7 linked regions of the Homo sapiens genome follow. The protein of the gene in region 1 purifies or fractionates together with the protein of each later gene. This does not show direct contact. Each region holds a gene or a part of one and is shown in the gene's direction. Other genes may lie near its edges.

Region 1 (3,996 bases):
GCCAAGGTGAGAAAGGGGCCCTCTGCATGCCCCAGACCTTCTCTCCTGTCCTCTCTCCACTCCATTTGCTTGGACCAGAGAGGTGGGAGGGGAGGAAAGTCACACATCTGGGTGAGTCAGAATCTTGGTCTCCAAAGAAGGCCTGGAGAAGTCCAACCTCCCCCTTCCATGTCACTCTTTAGTGGTCCGTGTGAAGTATGGGAACGCCGATGGGGAGTACTGCAAGTTCCCCTTCTTGTTCAATGGCAAGGAGTACAACAGCTGCACTGATACCGGCCGCAGCGATGGCTTCCTCTGGTGCTCCACCACCTACAACTTTGAGAAGGATGGCAAGTACGGCTTCTGTCCCCATGAAGGTGAGCATCCACTCTAGTCCCCAAGACTTTCCACCCCAAGCCTCCAGCTTCCCGGGCTCCCCAGTGTGCTCTTCCCTCCACACTCTCCAGGACTGGCTGCCACTGCCAGTTAATGAGCATCCCTCCAACGTCCTTCACTCAGTTCCCCCCCATCCTGATCTGAGCCATTGCTGTTTCTCTCCCACCAGTACCATGATGAACGTAGTACTCTAATTAAATCAAGTTGATTTTTTTTAAGTTTCACCATTAGCAATCATTTAGGAAGTCACAGATTTGATTTGCTAATTATTTATTTCTAATATATATTGGAGTGAACTTAGAACTATTACAATGCCCAGTGGTTCTCTCTAGAACCAGTCTTTACACTTCAGTCAAGATTGATACTTCAAGGGCATGAGGAAAGGCTTGCTGGTAGCTGGAAACCTAGCAGTGTGATAGGGAGGCAGGACTCAGACCAGGGCTGGACTCAACCTGGTTTGCGTACTCCAACTGAGGAATTTCAGCTATTGCTCCTGCCTTGGTCCTGATGCTGCCTCTGCTAATGCGTGTGTGTGTGTGTGTGTGTGTGCCTGTGTGTGTGTGTGTGTGTGTGTGTGTGTGTGTGTGTGTGTGTCTGGGCACGGGGGCTATACTATCTGCCTCTCTTGGGCACTGTCTTTTTCTGCCTCCTGTCTAGCTTGTGTCTGCATCTCTGTGTCTTGATAAAGACTTTAGGCTTGACTCAGTATTTGTGTTTGTGTGCTTGTCAGTGCCTGAGATGCAACATTTCAGAGATTTTGAAGCCACATGGGGGAAATCTTTTAAAATGGGGTACAGATATTGACATACACACTCAATCCTTTTTAAAAATATCCTTGACACACTTAATAGTCATAAATCACAAAAAGACAATGTAACTTCATACTCTATGAAGTCATCATATTTGATAATTCTGCAGATTGAAAGCCCAGAAAACCTGGCGAAAATGGAAAAAAGTCTAAAAATTTTTAACACTATCTTCTTTCCCATGTCACAAAGACTCTATAGTCTACATAGACTAAAGACTGTCTTTTTGTCTGTAATTTTATGTCTGTGAATCTCCCTAACCCCACTGTAACTGAAAACTAAGCACCAACCATCTTGACAGAATGAAAGAAACAAAGAGCTAGTTAATTCCCTTCCTGTTTATGCTTTTACTACCAGAGCTAAACTTTATATTAAGTAAGAGTTTAAGCCATTCACCATTAATAAGTCAGACATTTTGAAATAAAAATATTTTTTGTATCTTGCGTTTCCCGGTAGGGATTACATGTGGCGTTAACCCTTCCCTGTGTCACCCCTCTGATAGGAACAGAAAGCTTTGGTGATAGTTAGATGTGGAAACAGCTGTATTTCATAAATTTGGGAAGGGTTATTCCCTGCATTGGACATTAGCCATTTACTTTGTGCTTAGCCAGATGCAAGTACGCACAACACGCACGTGTCTGGGTCTCGAGGCAGAGATTGTTGTTACTCAGCCCCTGCTGATGGCTGAGTCAGTGTCTGATTCTTGCCATCCTTGTCAGGGGAATTTGGGAGGAGACAGGGGCTTCCTGGGTGGTAGAAATGAGAGGTCAGAGGCAGGGGGCTGGCATTGGTCGAAGTTAACGCTTTGCCTTTCTCAACTCTGAGGCCACTAAGGTATCTGGACTCAGTCTTGCCTTTTCTCTAGGTGCCATTGTTTCTGGCATTGCAGGACAAGGTCTTTTGGTAGAGAGGGGAGTGGTGAGGATACAGGGCCTCGAGTTCTGTGGTGGGAGGCCAGGGACTGGGCTCCATTCCGGCCATGGTGGAGTTAACGGGGGCTGGTGAGGTCACCTCTGGCGCCGTTGTGCACAGATGGTCCTTGTTATGGACTTGTGGTTTTGCTGGTTGGCAATTCCAGAGACACCATTTTTTAGCTTTGGGTGGATGAGGGGAGGATGGGGAGAATCCAAGACAGACAGGCCAGGCTCTGAACCCCACTCCCTCCCCCAACTCTCCATTTATGGCCCCTGTCTTGAAGATGTCAAAGTAGGAGCCCAGAGTGTTTAGTAAAAGGGACCTGAAGGCACCACCTCCCTCTCCCTCCCTCCTCCTCTTCATTCTTTCTCTCCTTCCTACAGAGACTGCAACAAGGCCATCCAGGAAGGGGCCTGGGGTTGACAGGAGGTAAAGCAAGCTTTCTGTGTATGCGTGTGCACGCACACACACATATATGAGAGTGACAGACTAAGCAAGAGAGATTGAGATTAGTGTGTTTTGTAGTTTTTAGTTACAACCTTCATTCACTTCTTTCATTTCTGTGACCATGAGCAGTTTGAGAACCATCTTTGTCCTAGCCTTGATTTCTCCACCTATCAAATGGAGAGAGATTCTCGTGGTCCTGCCTGCCATGACTGATATATTCATGTCATACATCATTATTACATGAAATTTGCATGGTACAGGTGTGGACCAGGCAGAATGGACAGTGCCCTTGGGGCTGAGGCAGGGTTCTAGAAGCCCTTGCTGTGTGCCAGGTGTCAATCATTTTGTTGTTGGGTGGTCCACAAGGTCCCACGGGAGGGATTGGGATAACCAGGGAAGCAGGGGTTCTCTCTGGGAGCTCAGAGAAGCAGCTCCTTACCAACCAGTAGAGATGTTTTCTTAATATTTTAACAATGCATCAACTTCACTGGTGTGAACCGGCAGGTGGGCAGCCAGCCAGCCCTGTGCCCATGGAAGCATGTCTCATTCACATCCTTCCCTCTCTCCCCCACCCTTAGCCCTGTTCACCATGGGCGGCAACGCTGAAGGACAGCCCTGCAAGTTTCCATTCCGCTTCCAGGGCACATCCTATGACAGCTGCACCACTGAGGGCCGCACGGATGGCTACCGCTGGTGCGGCACCACTGAGGACTACGACCGCGACAAGAAGTATGGCTTCTGCCCTGAGACCGGTGGGTGCCACTCCCTCTCCCTCCCTCAGGGCCCAGCACCTGCTGTCTGACAAAAAAAAAACCCATAAGACTCCGAGTGCCCACCTCCTTTCCCCAAGACAGGGGTGCTAAGACATCTGTGCGAATGACATCCACACCAAGATGTCCGTGTAGCTAGTCAGGATACTTGTCACCTGGTATGGCCTGGGCACTGAAATCAGAACAGACATTGGGCATCAACAGTTGAATTGGTGACACTTAAATGTCAGGCCTGCTCAGGATCCTCTGACCGACCTGCATCCCTTTTCTCTCAGGCTCTCTGGCAGAGACTTCTCTCTCCTCCTCTCTGACCCTGCAATCTCTCTTCCCTGCCTTTCCTGGTCTGTATCTCCACCTTTTAGTCTGTTTTTTATTAAGAGCTCCGTGCTTTCCTCCCTGTCTCCTTCCTGCCCTCCTCTCTATCCCTCCCTCCTTTCCTTCTTCCCTTCCTCCAACAGGAATTTACTGAGCGCCTGCTTTGTGCAGCATACACAGAGGTTGGTCTCTGCAAAGCCCTGCCCAAGGGGGCTCACAGCTGAGGGGCATGTGCTGGTGCCATCAGCTTCATCCAACTCCCTTTGCCCCTAGCCCATCTGCCCCCTTCCATGGGAGGCTCATTAGAACTCTGGAATCTGGCTTCCTGGGTTTGAATTGCAGCTCTGATACTTCCTAGCAGTGTTGGC
Region 2 (3,996 bases), on another chromosome or scaffold:
TCCTCTGTAAATAATTCAGTGCTTTCACAGGATGACTTCTAGGTTGTTTGCTTTTATATTGGGTCCCTGAGCTGGTTATTACATCACCCATATGTCTTAGACTGGAGGAAGACTGGGGCCCAGTGAAATAAGCTCTCACACAAGTTGGAATTAGTGCATAGCAGATTCCATCTGTTTTTGCCACTGGCTTCCTTCTCCCTCATATCAGGACAAAGTTCTTGCTATAAAAGAAAAAAAAAAAGTCAAAATATCATAGTTTCATTCCCACAGGCAGTTTGGCTTTGGTTATGTATTTGACTCTTAGACCTGTACCTTGTGCCCAGCACTGAGGATACAACGCAGAATGGGACATGCCCCAGCCTCCTCTCAGAGCCACTAAGATGTGGAGAATTCTTGCTGAGGAACAAACACATGTTTTTGCCTGTCTGTGGTTTTCGAAGTTTAAAAAATGTTTGCGCCTTCATCTCTGTAATGTACATGTCTAGGTTCTTTATTTTTAATTTAACTTTTGCCAATGCTAATCTTTGCCTGTTTGTACTAAAGGAGTAGGACGTGGTGGTTGCTAGCCAATTTCCTGAAAATATAAATTAAAAGGAAAAAGTAAGACAAAACAGGATCCCAGAAAAGGATAAGGCCTGTAACCTCAGGACTTTTCTACTTTTTTTTTTCTTTTCTTCCTTTTTTTTTTTTTTTTTTTTTTTTTGTGACACGGTCTCACTCTGTCACCCAGGCTCTGGAGTGCAGTGGCTCAGTCTCAGCTCAGTGTGTAGCCTCAACCTCCTGGGCTCAAGCCATCCTTCCAGGTCAGCTTTCCAAAGTGGTGGGATTGTTGACGTGAGCTACTGTGCCCAGAGAGGACTTTTCTTTTTACCCTGGCAGTGCCCCCGCAACTTAGCTTGTTAAGAAAAAAGATTTCACTAAATTTAGTTACGAATTTTATGTAGATTGCACATGTTAATACAGTGTTTTATTTTCCAGCTCATGCGGATGATTTATTCCCATTTTTCTTGAGACATGCCAAACAAATATTTCCTGTGTTGGACTGTAAGGATGATCTACGTAAAATCAGTGACTTAAGAATACCACCTAACTGGTTAGTTTCTCCATTTGTGGATTTGAAATTTTCAGTTTCTAATCTTGGATGATTCGTGGTCATTATTTTTTTTTATTGTATTCTAGATAACAAATTATAAGGAGTCTGGATTAGGTTGTTTTCCTAAAATAAAAAGAGGCAGTTAACTCTTTTAGGCAATTCACTGGTATCTTACCTTGATCCGGATTGAGTGTGGTTTTAGGTTTTATTAGGGCAGATCTAGAATAGCCCTGACTTAAGGATGTTGTCCTTAAGTGTAAGCTATGGCCTTCCTGGTGTTTTAGCTGAGCGCCTGGGTGTTAATGAGTTCTTTCCACCATGGCTGGAACTGCAACATCACCTAGCACTTGAGACGTCTTTGAGACTTTCCACTGAAACCCTTGGTAGGCTGCTCATTCCTAGACCCTGCCGATTCTTACCTTGTACATGGTTAGCCCAGCCCTTGGCCAGGAATTCGCAGGGAACCCCCACACAGACTTCTGGGCTCTCCTTCTATGCACCCTTCTCTTCCACAGTCTATTCTTCACATTTTAGCTGCTGAAGCAGCTCTGAACTTAATCTCTGCTGCTCGCTTCAGTGGGACTGTCATATTCTGCTTGGGTTCCACCTCCCTATGCCTTGCTGGGGTGCAGTACGGCTCATCCCAAGTGTTCTTTTCTTTCAAGGATTGCAGTCCTGCACTGCCTTGTGGCCCATGTCCCCACACATTTATTGCATGTATTTTGCCCCACTTTGTACTTGATTTTTTTTGTTTGTTTTTGAGAGAGAGTCTCACTCTGTCACCCAGGCTGGAGTGCAGTGGTGCGTTCTCGGCTCACTGCAACCTGCACCTCACAGGTTCAAGTGATTCTCCTGCCTCAGCCTCCTGAGTAGCTGGGATTACAGGCGTGTGCTACCACACCTGGTTAATTTTTGTATTTTTAATAGATACGGGGGCTCACCATGTTGGCCAGGCTGGTCTCGAGCTCCTGACCTCAAGTGATCCTCCTGCCTTGACCTCCCAAAGTGCTGGGATTACAGGCGTGAGCCACCATGCCTCGCCTGTACTTGTTTTTAGTGGGAGGGCAAGTCTAGTGCCAGTTATTCCACTATGGCCAGAGGTAGAAGACTCTGTTATTATATTTGTGTATGTTGGAATTCAGGGGCCTGGGAATGTTTGCCTTTAGAGTTATGTGTTTAGAGCTGTGGGAATGATGTGAACATAGTATGGAACTGATAGCAGCTTAAATTTATTTTTAGTAACCGCTGAGAAAAAGAGATTTGTACAATGGGAAAAATTTCCAAGACATTAATTTGCATTTGGGTTTTTCTGTCCTCTAGTTAGTAAATGCTATTCTTGGAAACCAGTCATTATTTTAATGTGGATATGAAACCCATTGTTTAGTTTTTCAAAGACTTGATCTTGTGAACATTAAGAGGATATTTCATTTGGAATTTGTTTCATTTGCTGTCTTTGCCAGGATGGATTTTGAGGTTAATGGATTAAGCTGTTTACCTACTCATGTTTTAGGTACCCAGATGCTAGAGCCATGCAGCGGAAGATAATATTTCATTCAGGCCCCACAAACAGTGGAAAGACTTATCACGCAATCCAGAAATACTTCTCAGCAAAGTCTGGAGTGTATTGTGGCCCTCTAAAATTACTGGCACATGAGATCTTCGAAAAGAGTAATGCTGCTGTCAGTATATTACCAAATATTTGCTCATTTTTTTCTTAATTTTCTTTTTTGGTGGGAGTGGGAAAAGATGTTTGTAGTAATTTACTGTTAACAAGAAATTACCATATTTCATTGTGTCTAAGAGGCTGTCAATTGTAAGATGTACCATTATTTTATATACAGTTAAGAAAGAAAAAGATGCTACCAACTGACTCTGACATGCTATCAATTCTTTTTTTTTTTTTTTTTTGAGATGGAGTCTCGCTTTGTCACCCAGGCTGGAGTGCAGTGGTGCGATCTTGGCTCACTGCAAGCTCCGCCTCTCGGGTTCATGCCATTCTCTTGCCTCAGCCTCCCCAGTAGCTGGGACTACAGGCGCCCACCACCACGCCTGGCTAATTTTTTGTATTTTTAGTAGAGACGGGGTTTCACCATGTTAGCCAGGATGGTCTCAATCTCCTGACCTCGTGATCTGCCCGTCTCGGCCTCCCAAAGTGCTGGGATTACAGGCGTGAGCCACCGCACCCAGCTCTATCAATTCTTAAGATGCATCTTGATTTCAGAGATACAAAAACATGAAAACATGTGCCAGTACAGTGAATGAAATACAATATTGAAGAACATTTTACATATGTAGAGAAATGCAGAAAGTAACATACAAATAAGCTTGAACCTATTACACCACCTCATCATATCTTTACATTTTATCATACTTGCTTCACTTACTTTTTTAAGAAATAAAATATTGTTGCTACTCTCAAAACTCTGTAGTCCTTTGCCCCATCAGAGTTAAGCACTACTCTATGATATTTAATTTACCTTTTATAGATTAGACCTCTGATGCTATCAGCTAGAGCTAATGATAAAGACTGAAGCTACCTTTTCAAAACTGAAAGGACTGAAGCCCTGTAGTCTGAGGCATCATTTTCACTAAATGGGCTACATTTTGGTTCATTGTTTTATTATGACTTTATAATGTGAGTTTAACCAGTTTTGGTAGGTAATTTGCATTCTCTTTTTTTTTTTCTGAACAGTTTGAGCAATTTACATACATAATACCTCTTTATCTGTAAATACTTGAGAATATGTTTCCTCAGAACAGACTTTTACGTAACCACAGGATATTTGTCTGAAGCAGGACATTTAATATTGATAGATTACTCTTACTTAATACACAATCTATATTCAAATTTTATCAATTGTCCAATTACACCCCATCCTCCACCCCTCCAGGGTTCTTTTCAG
Region 3 (3,996 bases), on another chromosome or scaffold:
AAGACAAAATATGTTGTCAGGTTTTCTGTTTTTAACGTAAGACCCTTAAAGCTCATCAGGCTCAATCACTGAAACATGTAAGAATGGATAGAAAAAAATACCCTTTGTCTCTGATAAGATCTTTGAATTTAGTTAATGATATATATTATAGACTAATGATTTGCAGGAAATCTGTATCATAACAGCAAGACTTTCCAAAATATTTAGTTTGGTTGTATAATTCTTATGAGGAACTGAAAGGCTAACATTACAGTATTTGTGATTTCATGTTAGAATAGAACTTAGAAGATTTGGGGTTTTATTCCCCAATAGAGGCTTTTCCTAGAATTCTCACTGGATCCAATCTCTAAAGGCTAGGGAAGCTGTTTTCCATGACATCACTCTTGGACTACTTCTAGTCATAGTGTGGAATAAGCAGAGAAGCATTAAATTAAAGTCTTCTGATGAAAAATAGCATTCAAGCAGGGTTTTTTTTTTCTTATAAGGCTTCTTGTATTATAGGATGACGAAATGCTAAACATACCTGAAAAGTGAAGTAATTTGGTGCCAGTCTGGAGGCTGGAGGACCCAGGGCCCTCCTAATAGCTTAGTTAAATGGTCATTTGCAATTTGGTCCTGAGTTATAAAAATATTTTGATGACAAGAAAGAATTTCCAGTATTAAACAAATTAAAGTTAACTTACACAACGTCTCCTCCCATATTAAAGTGAGTTTTCAATTTGAGTAGTGTATTGAGAGTAAAGTGACCGCTAATAGAGCTTAAAAGTCTGTCTTTAAATTTGTCTTTTCTTTTATATTGGTATGTTGAGAAGTTGGCTGCTTTGAGATTGTCAAATTTACATTTTTTTACTTTATGGGTTACAGAAGTGAGAAATGTTATGACTCAGAAATTAATTCTGTTTTTATCCGTAGTAAGCCTTTGCATTCTCTTTTCGATATGCAACTGTGGCATTTTCTGCATAGGCATCAATTTTGGTAGGAGAACAGTTTGGGGATGAAGATAGTATGAAATCATTTAAATTTTTCATTGAGGGTAAGTATATTATATCAACCTCTGAGAATCTAGCTTTTGCATTGAATACCTTAAGCTTTTGTATGAATTTTCAAGCAGCTGTGGAAGGAATGTGAAAGCAATAAATTATTGCTTATGGCACAAACATAGAGGTTAATTTTGAAATGTCTTTTAATTGCCTATAATTTTGCCTTCACATCAGAATGGCAGCCTTATAACTGAAAAGGAAGCATTTAATTTCTTTGCCTTTAATTTCCTGTCCAGTTTTACCCCCACCAAACTTCTTTTTTTACTGGTCACTAGAGAGTTTGAAGTGTTCAAAAATTCTGTGATATAAATAGCAGTAATAGTCTTCCAGGGCAGAGGTAGGAAGAGGTTGAGGTTTGTGCGTGCACGTGTGTGTGTGTGTGTGTGTGTTGTCACTTATCTCTTACACTTTCAGTTGTTCTCAAGCCTGTGGTCTCAGGACTTCTTTGTACTTATTTGTACTCTTAAAAATTAGTGGGGGCCGGGCTTGGTGGCTCACACCTGTAATCCCAGCACTTTGAGAGGCCGAGGCGGGTGGATCGCTTGAGGCCAGGAGTTCGAGACCAGCCTGGGCAACATGGTGAAACTCCGTCTCTACTAAAAATAAAAAAATGAGCTGGGCGTGGTGGTGGGCTCCTGTAATCCCAGCTACTCAGGAGGCTGAGGCAGGAGAATCGCTTGAACCCCGGAGCAGAGGTTGCAGAGATCATGCCACTGTACTCCAGCCTGGGTGCAGAGTGAGACTGTCTCAAAAAATAAATAAACAAATAAAAATTAATTCTATTACATGGTAACCTAAATAACATTTTTTTATGAAAAATAACTTTTCTAAAACAGTTAAGAACTTGGTGAAAAGAGTGGCATTGTTTTAAATTTTTGCATATCTCTTTAATATCTGGCTTAATAAAAGCCAATGGGCTTCTCATCAGCTTCTGCATTCAGTCTGTTGCAATATCACATACCATGTGTAAACCTCTAGAAAACAGAATGAAAGTGAAAAAGACAAATAACTATTCTTTATTTATGTATTTATTTTGAGAAGGAGTCTTGCTCTGTCGCCCTGGCTGGAGGTGGCGCAATCTTGGCTCACTGCAACCTCTGCCTCCTGGGTTCAAGCAATTCTCGTGCCTCACCCTCCTGAGTAGCTGGAATCAGACGCACATGCCATCACCCCTGGCTAAGTTTTGTATTTTTTAGTAGAGATAGGGTTTCACCATATTGACCAGGCTGGTTTTGAACTCCTGAGCTCAAGTGATCAGCCCACCTCTACCTCCCAAGGTGCTAGGATCACGGATGTGAGCCACTGTGCCCGGCTGACCAATAACTTTAAAAAAATTATTTGGATAATAATTTTGACATTGGGAAGCCCCTTTAGTGGGGACTGGGATCTTTTAGGACAACTGGATTCACTTGTCCCCAGATCATGCTTTGAGAATCCCTATACTAATCATTCTTAGGCACAAAAATGTGAGGCTTTCTTTTATTTAGTCAGTACCAAGTTTATGAAACAAGACACGTTCTTCAGTATTTCTTTCCTGGTAGTATAAGTATGCCTTGTCATTTGGTCTAATTGGTTTCCCTCTTGAAAAAAAAAAAACCTACTATTTGAAATTCTGAAGGCCATGTATAAAGTGTTGATAAACCTATATATGAAAAGTAAGGATACAGAATTTTTGTACATTGAACATTTTGTCAGTAAATGTTTTTCCTCAAAGCCTCTTAAATTTTTCCTCCAGCACTCATTTAAAGAGTTCTTATTTAAGGTTTTTGTGTTTTACAATGATTCGTTTTTTTCTTTTGGGAGAGTGGGGCTACGCACTTCTTGTTGAGCACGCTACTGCTGCCGCGGCTGTCTCTGCCATTGCAAAGTAGTTCTTATAATAGTTTTCTTCCTTAAATTGATATAATTCTGTACTTAGATTTCTTTTTAGAGACAGGGCCTTGTTCTGTTGCCCAGACTGGAATGCAGTGGCTTCATCGTGGTTCACTGCAGCCTCGACATCCTCACCGCAAGCGATTTTCCTGCCTCAGCCTCCCAAGTAGCTGGGGCCACAGGAGCACGCCACCAAGCTCTGCTATTTAAAAAAATTTTTTTGTAGGGAAGAGGTCTGGCCACATTGCCCAGGCTGGTCTTGAACTGGATCAAGTGATCCTCGTGCCTTGCCTCCCAAAATGTTGGGATTACAGGCATGAGGCCGCTGTAACCAGTTAAAGAATTATGTACACAATTTTTTTTTTTTTTTTTTTTTTTTTTTGGGACATGGTCTCACTCTGTTGCCCAGGCTGAAGTTCAGTGGTGGATTATAGCTCATTGCAGCCTCGGCCTCCCGGGCTCAGTTTATCCTCTGACCTCAGCCTCCTGAGTAGCTGGGACTACAGTCACACACCACCACGTCTGACTAATTTTTATGTTTTTAGTAGAGATGGGGTTTTGCCACGTTGCCCATGCTGGCCTCGAACTCCCGAGCTCAAGCGATATGCCCATCTCGGCCTCCCAAAGTGGTGGGATTATAGACGTGAGCCACTGCGCCTGACTCTGATCTGTTATAAATCTGCATTATGATAAACCCTAGGGAGGCATGGGGTTGGTAGAGAGGGGAGACTGAGGGTTCTCACTTAGGTTAATTCATTTATTCACCACCCTAACTTGATAATAAGATGATGATGATTATTAGTAATGTATGGATGGAAACCAAGATAGGAAGTTAACAAAATTTCTGTAGGTCACACAGTAAGCACTCTGATTTCAGAGGTTTTGCTCTTTCCGACCACACTATTTTGTATTTTTTGCAAATAGAATCTAATTTTTTTTTTTTTTTTTTTGAGACAGGCTCTTAGTTTGTTGCCCAGGCTGGAGTACAATGGCGCCATCTCAGCTCACTGCAACCTCTGCCTCCTGGGCTCAAGCAATCTTCCTGCCTCAGTCTCCCAAGTAGCTGAGACTACAGGCACACACT
Region 4 (3,996 bases), on another chromosome or scaffold:
GGTACCCAGCCTGGGCTGGGGTTGGCCTGGGGTCCCTGTGCGGCTTCAGCTGCAGCCTCCCTGTTCTCTTGGAGGCTGCACGGCCTCCCTGACCCACTTTGTGGGCAGGAAAGAGACGGAGACAGACAGAGACAGAGAGAAACAGAAACAGGGAGAAACAGACACAGAGAGAGACAGAGACAGAGAGAGATAGAGACAGAGACAGAGAGAGACAGAGACAAAGAGTGACAGAGGGACCAAGACAGGCAGACAGAGACAAACAGAGACAGAGACAGAGACACAGAGAGAGACACAGAGAGACAGAGACGGGAACAGAGACAGGCAGACAGAGACAGAGAGAGACAGAGACAGAAACAGAGACAGAGGGACAGAGACAGGCAGAGAGAGACAGAGAGACAGAGACAGAGACAGACAAACAGAGACAGAGAGACAGAAACAGGGACAGAGACAGAAAGAGAGAGAGACAGAGGGAAACAGAGAGAGACAGAGACAGATAGAAAAAGACAGAGGCAGAGAGAAGCAGAGACAGAGAAACAAAGACAGTCAGAGACAGACAGAGACAGAGACAGAAACAGAGACAGAGAGACAGAGACAGAGGGGCAGAGACAGGCAGACAGAGAGACAGAGACAGAGACAGCGAAACAGAGACAGAAACATACAGAGACAGAGAGACAGAGAGAAGCAGAGACAGACAGAGGCAGAGAGACAGAGAGAAGCAGAGACAGGGACAGAGACAGAGACAGAAATAGAGAGATAGAGACAGAGGGACAGAGACAGAGAGATAGAGACAGAGAGGGAGACAGAGAGATAGAAGCAGAGAGAGAGAGACAAAGACAGAGGCAGAGAGACAGAGAGAGAAGCACAGACAGAGACAGACAGAGAGACAGGGACAGACAGAGACAGAGAGACCGGAAACAGAGGCAGAGAGACTGAGAGACTGAGAGAGACGGGGTGGTTTTCCCCACAGCATCAACACCAAGCAGGGCTAGGATCACTGAAACAGACTCATCAGACCCGAAGCATGCGCTTTCTCGGGGTTTTTCTGGACTGAGGGGTTTCCTCTCATCCCAGTGTCCAGCTGTGGGGACGCAGGGGCCGCAAGCCCCGGAGTGTCCAGAGGGGAACGTGGCCTCCCCACACCCAGCCCTTCACGAGGCCTCAGGATCCCAGTGGGGGTACCCGAGGCTGCCCTGTCCAGCCAGGCGGTGCGGGGGGTTTGGGGAGAGCCTCTCCCCGAGGTCGGTCTCAGAGGGCCACATGGCCGGTGTGGGCCGGACATTCCCTTTCCAATGGTTGTGCCCACTTCCCTCCAGAGTTGGTGCCAAGCTGGGACCTGGGGGACTTGGAGTCTCAGGAAGTCGTCCGCTGTCTGCAGGGGGTGCATGGGGGATGTGGCCACACACGTCAGAGTGCGGCCCCCTGTGGAAGCCACAGACAGACACGACTCCCCTAAATGAGCTCGCCCTTCTGGCCGAGATGCTCAGCGTCCCCAGCAGGCTGCCCGACTGCCCTGCGATACTGCCCTCCTTCCTGCTGCTCCCACTTTCCCTTTCGGGGGGTTGGATTTGGGGCATTCAGGGATCGCCCTGTTGTTTGCTCATCACACCCATTTCCTGCAAGAGCCACGGTGACCGAGCAGCCTTGAGTTGAGGCAGCTTGTGGGTAGACGCGGCGGGCATCTCGGAGGGGCACGCTCCCTGCCACCCTCAGCCTCCACTCACTGGTCAGGGGCTTTGCGCCCCAGGGCACCCCAGGAACCGAGCCTCCTTTGGGGTCATGGGTGCCTCTCCTGGGAGGGCGTGGATTTTCCAAAGCAGTTTAGAGAAATGAGACCCACAGGCGTTATTTCCCATGGTGAGGTTCTTTTCAGTAACCCCCACCGTATAGCCAGGATCAGCAAAGAGAGGCGGCTCCTCCCGGTGAGACAGGGACCAGCACCTCCCGGACAGGCTTGGGTCTCCCTCCAGTTCCCCCACCTAGTCTCGAGGTCTCACGCTGCCCTCTCCTGTCCAGGGGCTCCCACCTGAAGGAGAATAAGTACCTGATTGTGGTGACCGACGGGCACCCCCTGGAGGGCTACAAGGAACCCTGTGGGGGGCTGGAGGATGCTGTGAACGAGGCCAAGCACCTGGGCGTCAAAGTCTTCTCGGTGGCCATCACACCCGACCACCTGGTAGGCACCGGCCCCCCCCGGCAGATGCCCCCAACCACAGGGAGTGGCGGCTGCAAGGCCCCCGGCAGCTGGGACCGTCTTTTGGTCCTCGGGAGGGTGTGGGTTCTCCAGCCGGCCACCCTTGCCCCTGAGAGGCCAGCCCCTCCTGCTGAGGAGCCTGGAGCGCCCCAGCCCAGCCTCCCCTCTGGCCCTGTGGGAAGCGGCCCCGGCCGTCAGGGGTCCCAGCCCTGCTCAGCCCACCCTGAACACTGCCCCCAGGAGCCGCGTCTGAGCATCATCGCCACGGACCACACGTACCGGCGCAACTTCACGGCGGCTGACTGGGGCCAGAGCCGCGACGCAGAGGAGGCCATCAGCCAGACCATCGACACCATCGTGGACATGATCGTGAGGCCCCTGCCCAGGAGACGGGGAGGCCCGCGGCGGCCGCAGGTGGAAAGTAATTCTGCGTTTCCATTTCTCTTTCCAGAAAAATAACGTGGAGCAAGTGGTAAGAGCCCTCCCCACCACCCCCAGCCGTGAGTCTGCACACGTCCACCCACACGTCCACCTGTGTGTTCAGGACGCATGTCCCTATGCATATCCGCCCATGTGCCCGGGACACATGTCCCCTGCGTGTCTGCCCGTGTGCCCGGGATGTGTGTCCCCCTGCGTGTCCACCTGTGTGTCTGCCCATGTGCCTGGGACATGTGTCCGCCTGTGCGTCCATCCGTGTGTCCGTCTGCCCATGTGCCTGGGTCGCATGTCACCCTGTGTCCCAGCCGTATGTCCGTGGCTTTCCCACTGACTCGTCTCCATGCTTTCCCCCCACAGTGCTGCTCCTTCGAATGCCAGGTGAGTGTGCCCCCCGACCCCTGACCCCGCGCCCTGCACCCTGGGAACCTGAGTCTGGGGTCCTGGCTGACCGTCCCCTCTGCCTTGCAGCCTGCAAGAGGACCTCCGGGGCTCCGGGGCGACCCCGGCTTTGAGGTGAGTGGTGACTCCTGCTCCTCCCATGTGTTGTGGGGCCTGGGAGTGGGGGTGGCAGGACCAAAGCCTCCTGGGCACCCAAGTCCACCATGAGGATCCAGAGGGGACGGCGGGGGTCCAGATGGAGGGGACGGCGGGGGTCCAGATGGAGGGGACGGCGGGAGTCCAGATGGAGGGGATGGCGGGGTCCAGATGGAGGGGACGGCGGGGTCCAGATGGAGGGGACGGCGGGGTCCAGATGGAGGGGATGGCGGGGTCCAGATGGAGGGGACGGCGGGGTCCAGATGGAGGGGACGGCGGGGTCCAGATGGAGGGGACGTCGGGGCTCCAGATGGAGGGGACGGCGGGAGTCCAGATGGAGGGGACGGCGGGGTCCAGATGGAGGGGACGGCGGGGTCCAGATGGAGGGGACGGCGGGGTCCAGATGGAGGGGACGTCGGGGCTCCAGATGGAGGGGACGGCGGGAGTCCAGATGGAGGGGACGGCGTGGTCCAGATGGAGGGGACGGCGGGGTCCAGATGGAGGGGACGTCGGGGCTCCAGATGGAGGGGACGGCGGGGGTCCAGATGGAGGGGACGGCGGGGTCCAGATGGAGGGGACGGCGGGGTCCAGATGGAGGGGACGGCGGGGTCCAGATGGAGGGGACGGCGGGGTCCAGATGGAGGGGACGGCGGGGTCCAGATGGAGGGGACGGCGGGAGTCCAGATGGAGGGGACGGCGTGGTCCAGATGGAGGGGACGGCGGGGTCCAGATGGAGGGGACGTCGGGGCTCCAGATGGAGGGGACGGCGGGGTCCAGATGGAGGGGATGTCGGGGTCCAGATGGAAGGGACGGCGGGGTCCAGCAGGCAGGCT
Region 5 (3,996 bases), on another chromosome or scaffold:
TTGAGTTTTACTGTTTTAAAACAAAAATAGCAGTTCTAAAGTACATATGAGAAAATAGGGGATATTAACACTTTATAGTTAGATATAGAAATATGGATTTATTTTTCTTCTTTATTGCTGATTATGTCATTCAGTGGAGGGGAAGGAAGTATCTGATGAGCATGCCTGGGAACCAAAACTGTCAAGGAAGCTAAATTTTGTGATTCTCAGTTAGGACTACTTGTTAACTCTGTCTTTTTAAGAGATACAGCTGTGAAAATGTATGACCTTTTTTTTTAATGCCATGGGTATTGCATAAATAGGAATAATAATAAATAGGAATGTGTAATAATTAGGACACAGTAATAAATTAGGACAGAGAGGTACTATTAATATTATATTTATTAGAATTTTATTACAAGTTGTCTGTAATATATAGCTAGCAGACTCAGTGAATTGGCAAATAGTATTTTGTTTTAATAAGATTAAAATCAGCAGATGTCACCCTGGATAAGTACGTTAGAATGAATTTTTTCACAGATCTCAGAATTGTCGTTGTTAGAATGGAGAAAAGAATAATGTTTTATTCAGAAGAAATAATGAATTTTCCTCTGTTCTTCAATTCAGGAAATGTTTATTGAATTTCATATGTTCTTGGTACCGCTGAAGCCCAGATGATAAAGTAGTGACCTGGACAGAGAAAGTGCTTCTGTGCTGTAGATCCAGTCTCTGTGACTGAACAGATGGGAACAGGACTGAAAATGTTAGCTGTTACACATTTCTTTCTAAAACAGCAGAAATGATAAGAGATTACTGTGTCCATATTGTGGAGACAACACTTGATAAACCAGCTATCCTTTCTTGGCATGGAGGGCAGGCTGATTTTTGTGTAGTCATCTAGATTTCTTGTCTGCTTAATAACAAGGTTGTGAACAAAGGTGAACTCATCCATTCAGGTTGTTTCCTAAAGATGTTTAAATTACTAGTTAAAAAATATCAATTGAACCAATTATTCTGATTATAAAAGTAACAGTATTGTTTCAGTAAATTTTTCATGTTTTAATGGATTAGTTGGGTGATAGCCTTTGATTTTATTATTCCGTGTATTTAACATTGCTTTCTAGTGATTTAAGACAAGTCCTGTTTTCTTAAATTTTTATTAGCAGAGACTACTTTTAAGTACTGGCTTAAACAGAAATAATTTTAAGTTAAGAATATCCATTTTCAAATTGAGTATGATCAAGGAGAGTTATGTACGGCTAATAATTAGAAGTACTAATATCTAATATTGTTTTCCTTCATGCAGGTACCATACATTATCTGTATCATAAAGTTTCCATTTGAAGGTTATTTATTTTATATATACACCCTTTTTTAGGTCAGCTTATTTCGGATCAAGTGGCAGAAATCGTATCTAAATACGACCCCAATGTTTACAGCATCAAGTATAATAACCAATTAGCAACTCGGACTGCACAAGCTATTTTTGATGACAGCTATTTGGGTAGGTAAAACCAAAATTTACTCATTTTTGGAACTGTGGTACATATATCTTATATCTGAGTATGGTCTTTTAAGTAGAAAAATATTTTATGTGAAATAGATTAGGATTTTTTGAAACATACAGAATATACAATTTCAAATTGTTAATGAGTACTTTGGTTATGTTACGTTTCAGTAATTGAAATTGAAGACAGTGATTATTTGTGCAGTGATAATAATAATAGCTAGCCTTTAAGATATGCTTACTGTGTTCTGGGCATTGTTCAAGGTGACTTGGTTTGTATTCACTCATTTAATCCTCACAAGTCAAGCATACTGTATTATTCTCATTTTGTAGGTGAAAACACTGAGGCACTGAGACGCAAAATAACTTGCCCAAAGTCACTCGCTTGTAACTTGCTGTTCAGAGATTCAAATGGAGACAGTCTAACTCCTGAAGTTTTCTTCATGATGTTAAATAAAAGTTTTGGTCTTTAGGACTTATTAACATGTGTTCTCTCTTTCAATTTCTTTATGATATATTAAAACAAGTCATATATGACAGAAATAGTACTTGCTGATTGAGAGAATTTATTTGTTCTTTATGATGAGTTGTAAATTTGGTGTTTTTAACAGACTCCTTTGTAAAGTTAATAAGACAATTGTAGTTTTGTAATAAAAATAGACTATTTGAGTATTTAACTCAGTTTCATTTAAAATTCATATGTCATATATATATGAATCTGTTATGACTAGGGGACAAAATATTGCATAAGTAAAGGAGTTTCTTGAAAATATTTTCAAGGAATGCTTACTCAGCAAGCCTGCTGAAGATAACGTCCTTGTCCTGATGGTTCTCCCCTTTGGTTTCCTGTTTAGGTTATTCTGTGGCTGTCGGAGATTTCAATGGTGATGGCATAGATGGTATGAAGTACTTGAACTATATCTAATCTTTAAAAAAATTAGATTAAGTATTTGAAACATGTGGCATTGAAAATTTTAAGCAGTTTGAGTGGCTGGGTGCTGTGGCTGCAGCCTGTAATCTCAGCACTTTGGGAGGCTGAGGCGGGTGGATCCCTTGAGCCCTGGAGTTCAAGAACAGTCTGGACAACATGGCAAAACCCTGCCTCTAGAAAAAACACAAAAATTAGCCGGGCGCGGTGATGCACACCAGTGTCTAGCTTCTCAGGAGGCTGAGGTGGGAGGATCTCCAGAGCCCAGGGAGGTTGAGGCTGCTGTGAGTTGTGATTGCGCCACTGCACTCCCGCCCGGGCGACAGAGCCGAGACCCTGTCTCAAAAAAAAAAAAAAAAAAGGAAAAGAAAATAAAATTTTAAGCAATTTTAAACCATTGTTATGGAATATAACAGAAGAAATGAGGAAGATGTTAGCACACTGGTGAGAGTCCAGGCTAGGTCTGTGCTGAACTTCCTCTAGTGGCTGCTGAAATTGAGACAGCTACACTTGGCTTCAGTGCCTTTCCTTTCTGCTTCTTTTTAGCCCCCAACACTGTTAGTGATTTCCTTAGCATTTTCCTCCTTGTCTTCAGCAAATTCATTCCTCTGGGAGGAAGAATTAGTGTCTTCTTTCTTTAGGCATCCTTTGTTACCTTCTGGGCCATCTCTGTACGGTTATTACCCCATCCTCTCATTGTCCATCCATCTTCCTTCAGAGCTCCGTTTAGGAATCACAGTCTTTACCTGATTTTGATCACATTTTTGTGCCACAGCCACTTCTACCCCACTTCAGTTTGCTCTGTATTATTTTTCATTACTGTACTACTAAACTAAATGTAGTTTTTCTTCATTCTTAGGTTACTTTATCTTGTCTATTCTTGTTTAACAATATTACAAATGACTTGAGGGCTTATTTGCATATGTTTGAGAGCCCTCCAGAATTTGTATTTTGTAAATTTTGATTTTATAGTTTAAAAATGCTGGGCTATTTATTACGGAGTACCAATTTTTCTAAATTGATTGTTTGTTTTGAACTGAAGTAGTAAAACTTAAAGCTTGCTGACATAGTCACTTCTGGTCTGCAACTTCCAGTGTTGTCCTAAAAAATGAATAATTTGTTTGTTTGTTTGTTTCAGACTTTGTTTCAGGAGTTCCAAGAGCAGCAAGGACTTTGGGAATGGTAGGACAGTTAAAAGGTATTTTTTAAAAAATCTCTAAGTTATCTTCTATTTTACCAGATTTCACATACTTCTATTTTTCCTTCACAGGTTTATATTTATGATGGGAAGAACATGTCCTCCTTATACAATTTTACTGGCGAGCAGGTATGCTTCCAAAATATGATCGTCCTCTCCCACTATAAAAGCAGTATGTACTCATTGGAGAAAATTTGCGAAATAAAACTGTAAAAATGAACTATAATCTCATCAAATAGATAATTCTTCCAACTCTTACCATTTTGGTCAAACTATTATCATTTCTCTTTTGAGCGTGTGTGTGTGTGTGTGTGTGTGTGTGTGTGTGTGTGTGTAGTATATAAACAAAAATTGGTTTACTCTGTATTTTTCATTTTGTCTTGC
Region 6 (3,996 bases), on another chromosome or scaffold:
CCCCCTCCCGGACGGGGCGGCTGGCCGGGCGGGGGGCTGACCCCCCCACCTCCCTCCCGGATGGGGCGGCTGGCCAGGCGGGGGGCTGATCCCCCCTCCCCCCTCCCGGACGGGGCGGCTGGCCGGGCGGGGGGCTGACCCCCCACCTCCCTCCCGGACTGGGCGGCTGGCCGGGCGGGGGGCTGACCCCCCCACCTCCCTCCCGGACGGGGCGGCTGGCCGGGCAGAGGGGTCCTCACTTCCCAGTAGGGGCGGCCGGGCAGAGGCGCCCCTCACCTCCCGGACGGGGCGGCCGGCCGGGCGGGGGGCTGACCCCCCCACCTCCCTCCCGGACGGGGCGGCTGGCCGACCCCCCCCCCCCCCGCCTCCCTCCCGGACGGGGCGGCTGGCCGGGCAGAGGGGCTCCTCACTTCCCAGTAGGGGCGGCCGGGCAGAGGAGCCCCTCACCTCCCGGACGGGGCGGCTGGCCGGGCGGGGGGCTGACCCCCCCCACCTCCCTCCCGGACGGGGTGGCTGCCGGGCGGAGACGCTCCTCACTTCCCAGACGGGGTGGTTGCCGGACGGAGGGGCTCCTCACTTCTCAGACGGGGCGGTTGCCAGGCAGAGGGTTTCCTCACTTCTCAGACGGAGCGGCCGGGCAGAGACGCTCCTCATCTCCCAGACAGGGTCGCGGCCGGGCAGAGGCGCTCCTCACATCCCAGACAGGGCGGTGGGGCAGAGGTGCTCCCCACATCTCAGACGATGGGCGGCCGCGCAGAGATGCTCCTCACTTCCTAGATGGGATGGCGGCGGGGAAGAGGCGCTCCTCACTTTCCAGACTGGGCAGCCAGGCAGAGGGGCTCCTCATATCCCAGACGATGGGCGGCCAGGCAGAGACGCTCCTCACTTCCCAGACGGGGTGGCGGCCGGGCAGAGGCTGCAATCTGGGCTCTTTGGGAGGCCAAGGCAGGCGGCTGGGAGGTGGTTGTAGCGAGCCGAGATCACGCCACTGCACTCCAGCCTGGGCACCATTGAGCACTGAGTGAACGAGACTCCATCTGCAATCCCAGCACCTCGGGAGGCCGAGGCTGGCGGATCACTCGCGGTTAGGAGCTGGAGACCAGCCCGGCCAACACAGCGAAACCCCGTCTCCACCAAAAAAAAACGAAAACCAGTCAGGCGTGGCGGCGCGCGCCTGCAATCGCAGGCACTCGGCAGGCTGAGGCAGGAGAATCAGGCAGGGAGGTTGCAGTGAGCCGAGATGGCAGCAGTACCGTCCAGCTTTGGCTCGGCATCAGAGGGAGACCGTGGAGGGAGAGGGAGGGGGAGGGGGAGGGGGAGAGGGAGAGGGAGAGGGAGACTCAGCAGCAATTGGATTTCTATGTTTACCTTGGCTACTCTAAAAATGAGAGCTAAAGTTATAGATGCTACAGTTAAGATAGCAAGCATATTGGTATGGACTTGCTTTGAAATGAGCATATACATTTTAAAAAGTTATTTATTTTTATACCCAGAAATTCTAACTTTATACTTTTTGATCTAACACACTTGAGAATTCAAAATACTTCCTCTGTCAATCTGCTGTTTGTCTTTGTCTCAAGCGTTACAGTTTTGACCTTTCTGTTTCTTCAGGACTCCTCTGATTTTCTTCAGGCCAAGCCATTTGTAGTTTGCAAGTGACTTTGTAGGTTTAGCAACTCTACTCTCTCACCCAAGAGTTACCTATCCAGTTATGGCAAAGACTGTTTCTTTCATTAAACAAAGTTATTAATCAGTCAGGAGAGAGACTTTTCACATTCTGAATTTACAAACTGTGCTTTCTTAAGTTAAATGGCATGTTAGGAGTATTTCTGATATGAAATTGGAAACTTGCAGACACCAGAAGGCATTGCTTATCTTTGTAAATACACATGTTCCAATTAAAATAGGTACTAAAATATTTTGGTGGCACCTCAAAACTCCCAATTTAGATTTAATTTAGATTAAAACACTTACTCTTTTTAATAAAGTTATAAAATTAATTATTAAAATTGCCTATTGAAGATTAAAGGCAGTGGAACGTTTATTTTCCTTACAAAACAATTTTGTCTTCAATAAGTGTGATTGTGTTAATCAATTATGCTATTAAAAATACAACTGCCGTGTTAAATCTGACTCATTTGTCATGACAGTTTTTATAATTATAGAAATTATACCTAGCTGCTTATATAGCCATAATCCTGCAATAAGTATAAATAATTATCTCTATTAATTCAGTTTGCAGTTACTCTCTATTAAATCCCGAGTTAAATGGCAATTTGGGGACCTTCATTTAAAATCCTACTAAATCTCTGTTGTTCCATCTGACTGCCAAAGCCCCACATATGCACCTCCTACTGTTGATTCCAGAAACCAATTTATGAATAAAATAGTTTTTAAACCACAAGTATTTAAAAGGTCCATTTAAGCTTGAGGTTTGAGGCTCTCAAGAAAAAAGGAAAGAGAGTGTACACATTGGGTAGAGGATGCTGACGAAAGAGATAGAACAAATCTTGGTGTCTGGGTATTTCAGTTTGGAAAACAGTATATAAATTTCAGTTTGAAAAAGTCTGCTTGACACCTTCTATGTAAGCCCAAAATACTAGAGTATACTGAGTAACGATTAACAACTTGTATTTCCATAGGTGTGGATGAGGTCACCATTGTCAACATTTTGACCAACCGCAGCAATGCACAGAGACAGGATATTGCCTTCGCCTACCAGAGAAGGACCAAAAAGGTACAGGCAATTCCAGGGATGGAGGGCATTTCTTGTTGAATTTTTGTTTCCTCAGACATTGCTTTTTCTTTTCATGAATTGTGGCTCTCATGCGCAAAAGACTTGTGGGACCCTTGGATATCTAAGATTTTCTTCTTAAATCCTTGTAAGAGTCACTGCACATGTGTGTGTGCGTGTGTGCACGCGCGCGTGCACCTCAGGTCATCAGGCATTAGGTTCTCATAAGGAGTGTACAACATAGATCCCTCGCGTGTGCAGTTCACAGTAGGGTTCGCGCTTCTGTGAGAATCTCATGCCACCGTTGATCTGAGAGGAGGCAGAGCGCAGATGGTCACGCTCGCTTTAGAGTGCTTGGGAGCTCCTGTGTAAGGACAGTACCCTCCCCCAACCCAGGCTACCTGGAGGGAGAGCTTCTGGGAATAGAAAGTTAGGAATAGGGAACAACAACAATAACAACAACAGGCACCATTTATTGAGTGCTTACTTTGGGCCAGGCACTGTGCTCAGTTTTGTACATGTAGCAACTCATTTCATCTTTATGACTTCTGCTGGTTCTTGATAAGATGTTTCTAATTTAATTTTAGGATACTAGCCTCCACTGAGTGTTGATCCTAACAAGCTCCTCTCATTTTAAAAATATACACTTGAATTCTTAAGCTTTTTGCAACGAGTGGGCTTAGTTGTTAGTTCATTTGGTCTGCAAAGCTATCTTCAACATGCCATGCTCCTACTATTTAAAGGGTCTTTGTGTGCTTTTTCCCTTTGCTTGTCCACTAGTGGTTAAGAAACAACCAGTGCGTGTTCGTCCTTTATTTTGTCAGTTGTAGGAAATTTTATTTTTAAGGACGTGCTGCTTTATTTTTAACTTCTTGCTATTAAAAGCTTTTGATTTATTCTTGGACAGTGCAGTAAGTGTGGCTTCCTGCAGCTCCCGTTTGACTTATGGCTTTCACTTGTAGCCACAGTGGAGGTGAGCTGGAAGGATTCTAGAAGAGATATTTCTGCCCTTGGGATTGACATGACCAGCAGGGTCCTGGGAGTTGCAGGTCAAGCCTTGCTACACTTCCATCCCCCGCACTCTAAATGGTTGGAAAGGACATAAATAGGAAAGCATCTGGCTTCTTTCATCTCAAGTGCATTAAAATTCTTCTTTCACTAGAAGTGTATTAATCTTGTGTAGTGAGGCATAGAGGGGAGTGTTTTATTTCTGCAGCTTCCCAAAGGGGTCTGTGAGCTGGTAGAGCCAAGTTCCCAGTGGA
Region 7 (3,996 bases), about 27 Mb from region 1:
TCCAACCTGACAACAGAGCGAGACTTCGTTTAAAAAAAAAAAAAAAAAAAAAGAGAAAAAAGTAAATGTGAGAGTCAGGTACTGGATGTGTGCTCACCTGGGCAGCATGCTTCACCCTTGGCCCTGGGCAAGTATCTGAGCTGGAACCTGAAGGAACTATGCTCTGTGAAGTTTCAGGGGGAGAGGAGAGAATGTCCTTGATAGAGGAGGCAGTAGGTGCCTAAACCCCTAGTGGTATTGGCCTTGACAATTGGGCCATTGGGATGCAGACAGAGGAAGGGAAAAAGGCTGGCCATGAGTGTGGAGAGGTAGGCAGGGCCTAGATTGGACAGGGGCATTGTGAGCCATGGTATGCATGGAGTTTGGAGCTTGTTTTGGCTAGGTGGAAGGAATTGACAAGTAGTGGGACCATCCATTATACAATGGGAAATCTGGAAAGGTGTTCAAGATGGAGCTGGACCATCCGCCTGACAGGAAGCTCTGATGGGCTTCAGGCTGGGATGTGGGGGTGTTGTGAATTCTGTAAGGAGAAGGCAGGCATCTCCTGTGCTTTAGTGGTTCCAGCTGGGGTGGGAGTGGGAGGTAGGGGTACCTGGGCTGAGCTGTGACTCTCTGCTTCCCCCTAGTGTTCATCTCCAGTTACATGGTGTTGGCACCTGTGTTTGGCTACCTGGGTGACAGGTACAATCGGAAGTATCTCATGTGCGGGGGCATTGCCTTCTGGTCCCTGGTGACACTGGGGTCATCCTTCATCCCCGGAGAGGTGAGGCCCCAAGCTGGCTCCTGTTTCTGCCCACACCCCCTCCCTGTCAGTCTCTGCTGCTGCTCCTTGGAGCTATGGCAGACTGGGCCTCAGGGACTCCTGCAGTTTCCCTGGTCCATGCCATTTTATACCCCTCCTTGCCTGAGTTAACCTGCCCCACCCCATCCTCCCCTTTTCTTCCAGAGCATTCTCTGTCCATTATCCCCTCTTCCCCTGACCACTGACTCCTTCTACTCCATACCTAAACACTCCAAACCCTACCTGGCCTGCCCTCTCTCCCTCCTCTCATTCCTGATCAGACTTCCTGAAGGGCCCCTAGAGCGTGGTGCCAGTGTGGGTAAAAGAGCAGCCGGGGAGATGCCATCACTCTGCCTGCACTTCCTCACGCCTGCTCACCCCTCGAGCGCTGCCACTGACTTCTGCTCCCACCACTCCACGGACCCTGCTCTTGCCAAAGTTAACAGTGGCCTCCTAGTTGCTAAACACAGCTCCAACTTCCTGGTCCTGTTCATGCTAGGAGCCTCTGGCACTGTTGACCCACTCTTCCTTCCTGAAACTCTCTCCTACCTTTGCGATGCCACACTCTTCTGGCTTTCCTCCTGCCTCCCTGGCTGTTGCTTCTTTGTTCCTTTGAAGCCTCCTCTGTCTGTTCTCACTCCACCCCAGAACTCTGTCCTCAGCCCCAGGACCTACGTACTTTCCTTGGGTGACTGTACCCGTCCTTAGCTTCAGGTGCCTTTGGTAGACACATAAACTCCCATCTAAGGTCACTTATTCATTAAAAAAAAAAAATTAAAAAACTTTCCCCTACCAGGCAAGCAGGGGTTGTCTTATTTAGACCTTTTATTGTCTAGTCCTTGCAATAGCTCTGTGAAAAGTTGTTGTTATCCTCCTTTTGCAGATGAGGAAACTGAGGCTCAGAGAGGTTAAGTTATTTTCCCCAAATCGCAGCTAGTAAGTGGTGGAGCCAGGATGCAAGCTCAGGTCTGTGTGATTCTAAAACCCAGGCATCTCCCGCCATCCCTGCTGCCTCTTGGGAGCGGGCTGGTGAGGTAGCCCGGAGGCTGGTTGCAGGCTGGGGTGCCACCTCTCCCCGGTCTCTCTCCCCAGCATTTCTGGCTGCTCCTCCTGACCCGGGGCCTGGTGGGGGTCGGGGAGGCCAGTTATTCCACCATCGCGCCCACTCTCATTGCCGACCTCTTTGTGGCCGACCAGCGGAGCCGGATGCTCAGCATCTTCTACTTTGCCATTCCGGTGGGCAGGTGAGTGGGCCTGGGGCCTGGGGGAAGGCAGAAGGGCCTGGTGTGGGGGACTGGACTGACTGGCTGTCCCCCCTTTTTCCCCTCTCTCCCTCCCACAGTGGTCTGGGCTACATTGCAGGCTCCAAAGTGAAGGATATGGCTGGAGACTGGCACTGGGCTCTGAGGGTGAGTCTGGTCTTGGCCTGGGGGTAGGTCAGCGACGTTCTCACTGATCCCTGTTTCCTACCTTTGGACCCCTTCCCACCGCCCATTTTTCTTTTAAGAGACAGGGTCTTGTTGTGTCACCCAGGCTGCAGTGCAGTGGTGCAGTCATAGCTCACTGTAGCCTGGAACGCCTGAGCTCAAGTGATCCTCCCACCTCAGCCTCCCAAGTAGCTGGGACTATAGGTGCCCGCCACCATGCCTGGCTAATTAAAAAAACTTTTTCTTTTTGTAGGCTGGGTGTGGTGGCTAACACCTGTATCCCAGCATTTTGGGAGGCTGAGGCAGGTGGATCACTTGAGGTCAGGAATTCAAGACCAGCCTGGCCAACATGGTGAAACCCTGTCTCTACTAAAAATACAAAAATTAGCTGGGCGTGGTGGTGCATGCCTGTAATCCCAGCTACTCGGGGGGCTGAGGTAGGAGAATCACTTGAACCCAGGAGGCGGAGGTTGCAGCAAGCTGAGATTGTGCCACTGCACTCTAGCCTGGGCGACAGTGCGAGACTCCTTCTCAAAAAAAAAAAAAAAAAATTTTGCCAGGCATGATGGCTCACGCCTATAATCCCAGCACTTTGGGAGGCTGAGGTGGGCGGATCACCTGAGGTCAGGAGTTCTAGGCCAGCTTGACCAACATGGTGAAACCCTGTCTCTACTAAAAATACATAATTAGCCAGGCATGGTGACGCATGCCTGTAATCTCAGCTACTCGGGAGGCTGAGGCAGGAGAATCGCTTGAACCCGGGAGGCAGAGGTTGCAGTGAGCAGAGATCGTGCCATTGCACACACAAAATTTTTTTTTTTTGTAGAGATGGGGTCTTTGTATGTTGCCCAGGTTGGTTTTGAACTCCTGGCCTCAAGCAATCCTCTTGCCTTGGCCTCCTAAAGTGCTGGGCTTACGGGTGTGAGCCATGCGCCTGGCTCCAAATACCCCTTTTTTGGGGCAGCTCTCATTCTGCTGAGCCTGCAGGAGACTGGCTGCCCTCACCTGGAAGCCATGTGCTAGACAGAATTCTTGCGTGCAGGTGACAGAAGCCCATTGTAAAACTGTAAGCCCCCTAGAGGCCGGGTGCGGTGGCTCACACCTGTAATTCCAGCACTTTGGGAGGCCAAGGTGGGTGGATCACAAGGTCAGGAGATTGAGACCACCCTGGCTAACACAGTGAAATCCCGTCTCTACTAAAAATACAAAAAAAAATTAGCTGGGCGTGGTGGCAGGTGCCTGTAGTCCCAGCTACTCAGGAGGCCGAGGCAGGAGAATGGCGTGAACCCAGTAGGCGGAGGTTGCAGTGAGCCGAGATCGCACCACTGCACTCCAGCCTGGGTGACAGAGTGAGACTCTGTCTCGAAAACAAACAAACAAACAAACAAACAAACCGTAAGCCCCCTAAAGGGGCTGTCTTGGCTTTCTTCCTGAAAGTCCCAGGTGAGCTTCAGTCAGGTAAAGCTGGATCCAGGGCTCCCACACTGCCCTTCTCTTCTGAGCTTTACTTTCCTTTGTGTTAACATCATTCTTAAGGACGTGAGAACTCCAGATGATTACCTTTCCATTTAGCAACATTGGCACCTTGGACCCTGGGGCCGTGTTTCCAGGATAGCGTCTGACTAGATGAACATGCATCACGTGCCCTCTGCGGAATCCGTCACCGAGGCTGGGGTGGTTAACAGTCCTCTTGTTGGCCAAGCCTGGGATCCTATTTAAACCAAGTGGATTGAGAGAAGTAGGGGTACTGGTTTCCCAAAAGAAAATTACCAAAGAGGAGACAAAGCT

What was found.
Region 2: the proteins of MMP2 (region 1) and SUPV3L1 fractionate together in Homo sapiens (co-fractionation; one large-scale study listed by BioGRID). This does not show direct contact.
Region 3: the proteins of MMP2 (region 1) and KLHL15 purify together in Homo sapiens (affinity purification with mass spectrometry; 2 studies listed by BioGRID and IntAct, with this or other methods). This does not show direct contact.
Region 4: the proteins of MMP2 (region 1) and COL6A1 purify together in Homo sapiens (co-immunoprecipitation; 3 studies listed by BioGRID and IntAct, with this or other methods). This does not show direct contact.
Region 5: the proteins of MMP2 (region 1) and ITGAV purify together in Homo sapiens (affinity purification with western blotting; 2 studies listed by BioGRID). This does not show direct contact.
Region 6: the proteins of MMP2 (region 1) and ANXA2 purify together in Homo sapiens (co-immunoprecipitation; one large-scale study listed by IntAct). This does not show direct contact.
Region 7: the proteins of MMP2 (region 1) and SPNS1 fractionate together in Homo sapiens (co-fractionation; one large-scale study listed by BioGRID). This does not show direct contact.

What each region holds. Positions count from the first base shown.
Region 1 is NC_000016.10:55,485,422-55,489,417, forward strand, and holds part of MMP2 (72 kDa type IV collagenase isoform 1 preproprotein), read left to right. Parts: coding exon 1-6; intron 7-182; coding exon 183-356; intron 357-3,121; coding exon 3,122-3,295; intron 3,296-3,996.
Region 2 is NC_000010.11:69,186,664-69,190,659, forward strand, and holds part of SUPV3L1 (ATP-dependent RNA helicase SUPV3L1, mitochondrial), read left to right. Parts: intron 1-730; coding exon of another isoform or gene 731-803; intron 804-978; coding exon 979-1,093; intron 1,094-2,603; coding exon 2,604-2,772; intron 2,773-3,996. UniProt on the Homo sapiens protein: Major helicase player in mitochondrial RNA metabolism. Component of the mitochondrial degradosome (mtEXO) complex, that degrades 3' overhang double-stranded RNA with a 3'-to-5' directionality in an ATP-dependent manner.
Region 3 is NC_000023.11:24,017,078-24,021,073, reverse strand, and holds part of KLHL15 (kelch-like protein 15), read left to right. Parts: intron 1-3,996. UniProt on the Homo sapiens protein: Substrate-specific adapter for CUL3 E3 ubiquitin-protein ligase complex.
Region 4 is NC_000021.9:45,984,513-45,988,508, forward strand, and holds part of COL6A1 (collagen alpha-1(VI) chain precursor), read left to right. Parts: intron 1-2,013; coding exon 2,014-2,173; intron 2,174-2,431; coding exon 2,432-2,560; intron 2,561-2,642; coding exon 2,643-2,663; intron 2,664-2,986; coding exon 2,987-3,007; intron 3,008-3,097; coding exon 3,098-3,142; intron 3,143-3,996. UniProt on the Homo sapiens protein: Collagen VI acts as a cell-binding protein.
Region 5 is NC_000002.12:186,634,725-186,638,720, forward strand, and holds part of ITGAV (integrin alpha-V isoform 1 preproprotein), read left to right. Parts: intron 1-1,357; coding exon 1,358-1,483; intron 1,484-2,340; coding exon 2,341-2,385; intron 2,386-3,552; coding exon 3,553-3,596; intron 3,597-3,684; coding exon 3,685-3,741; intron 3,742-3,996.
Region 6 is NC_000015.10:60,363,170-60,367,165, reverse strand, and holds part of ANXA2 (annexin A2), read left to right. Parts: intron 1-2,642; coding exon 2,643-2,737; intron 2,738-3,996. UniProt on the Homo sapiens protein: Calcium-regulated membrane-binding protein whose affinity for calcium is greatly enhanced by anionic phospholipids. It binds two calcium ions with high affinity. May be involved in heat-stress response.
Region 7 is NC_000016.10:28,977,282-28,981,277, forward strand, and holds part of SPNS1 (protein spinster homolog 1), read left to right. Parts: intron 1-626; coding exon 627-763; intron 764-1,873; coding exon 1,874-2,025; intron 2,026-2,123; coding exon 2,124-2,190; intron 2,191-3,996. UniProt on the Homo sapiens protein: Plays a critical role in the phospholipid salvage pathway from lysosomes to the cytosol.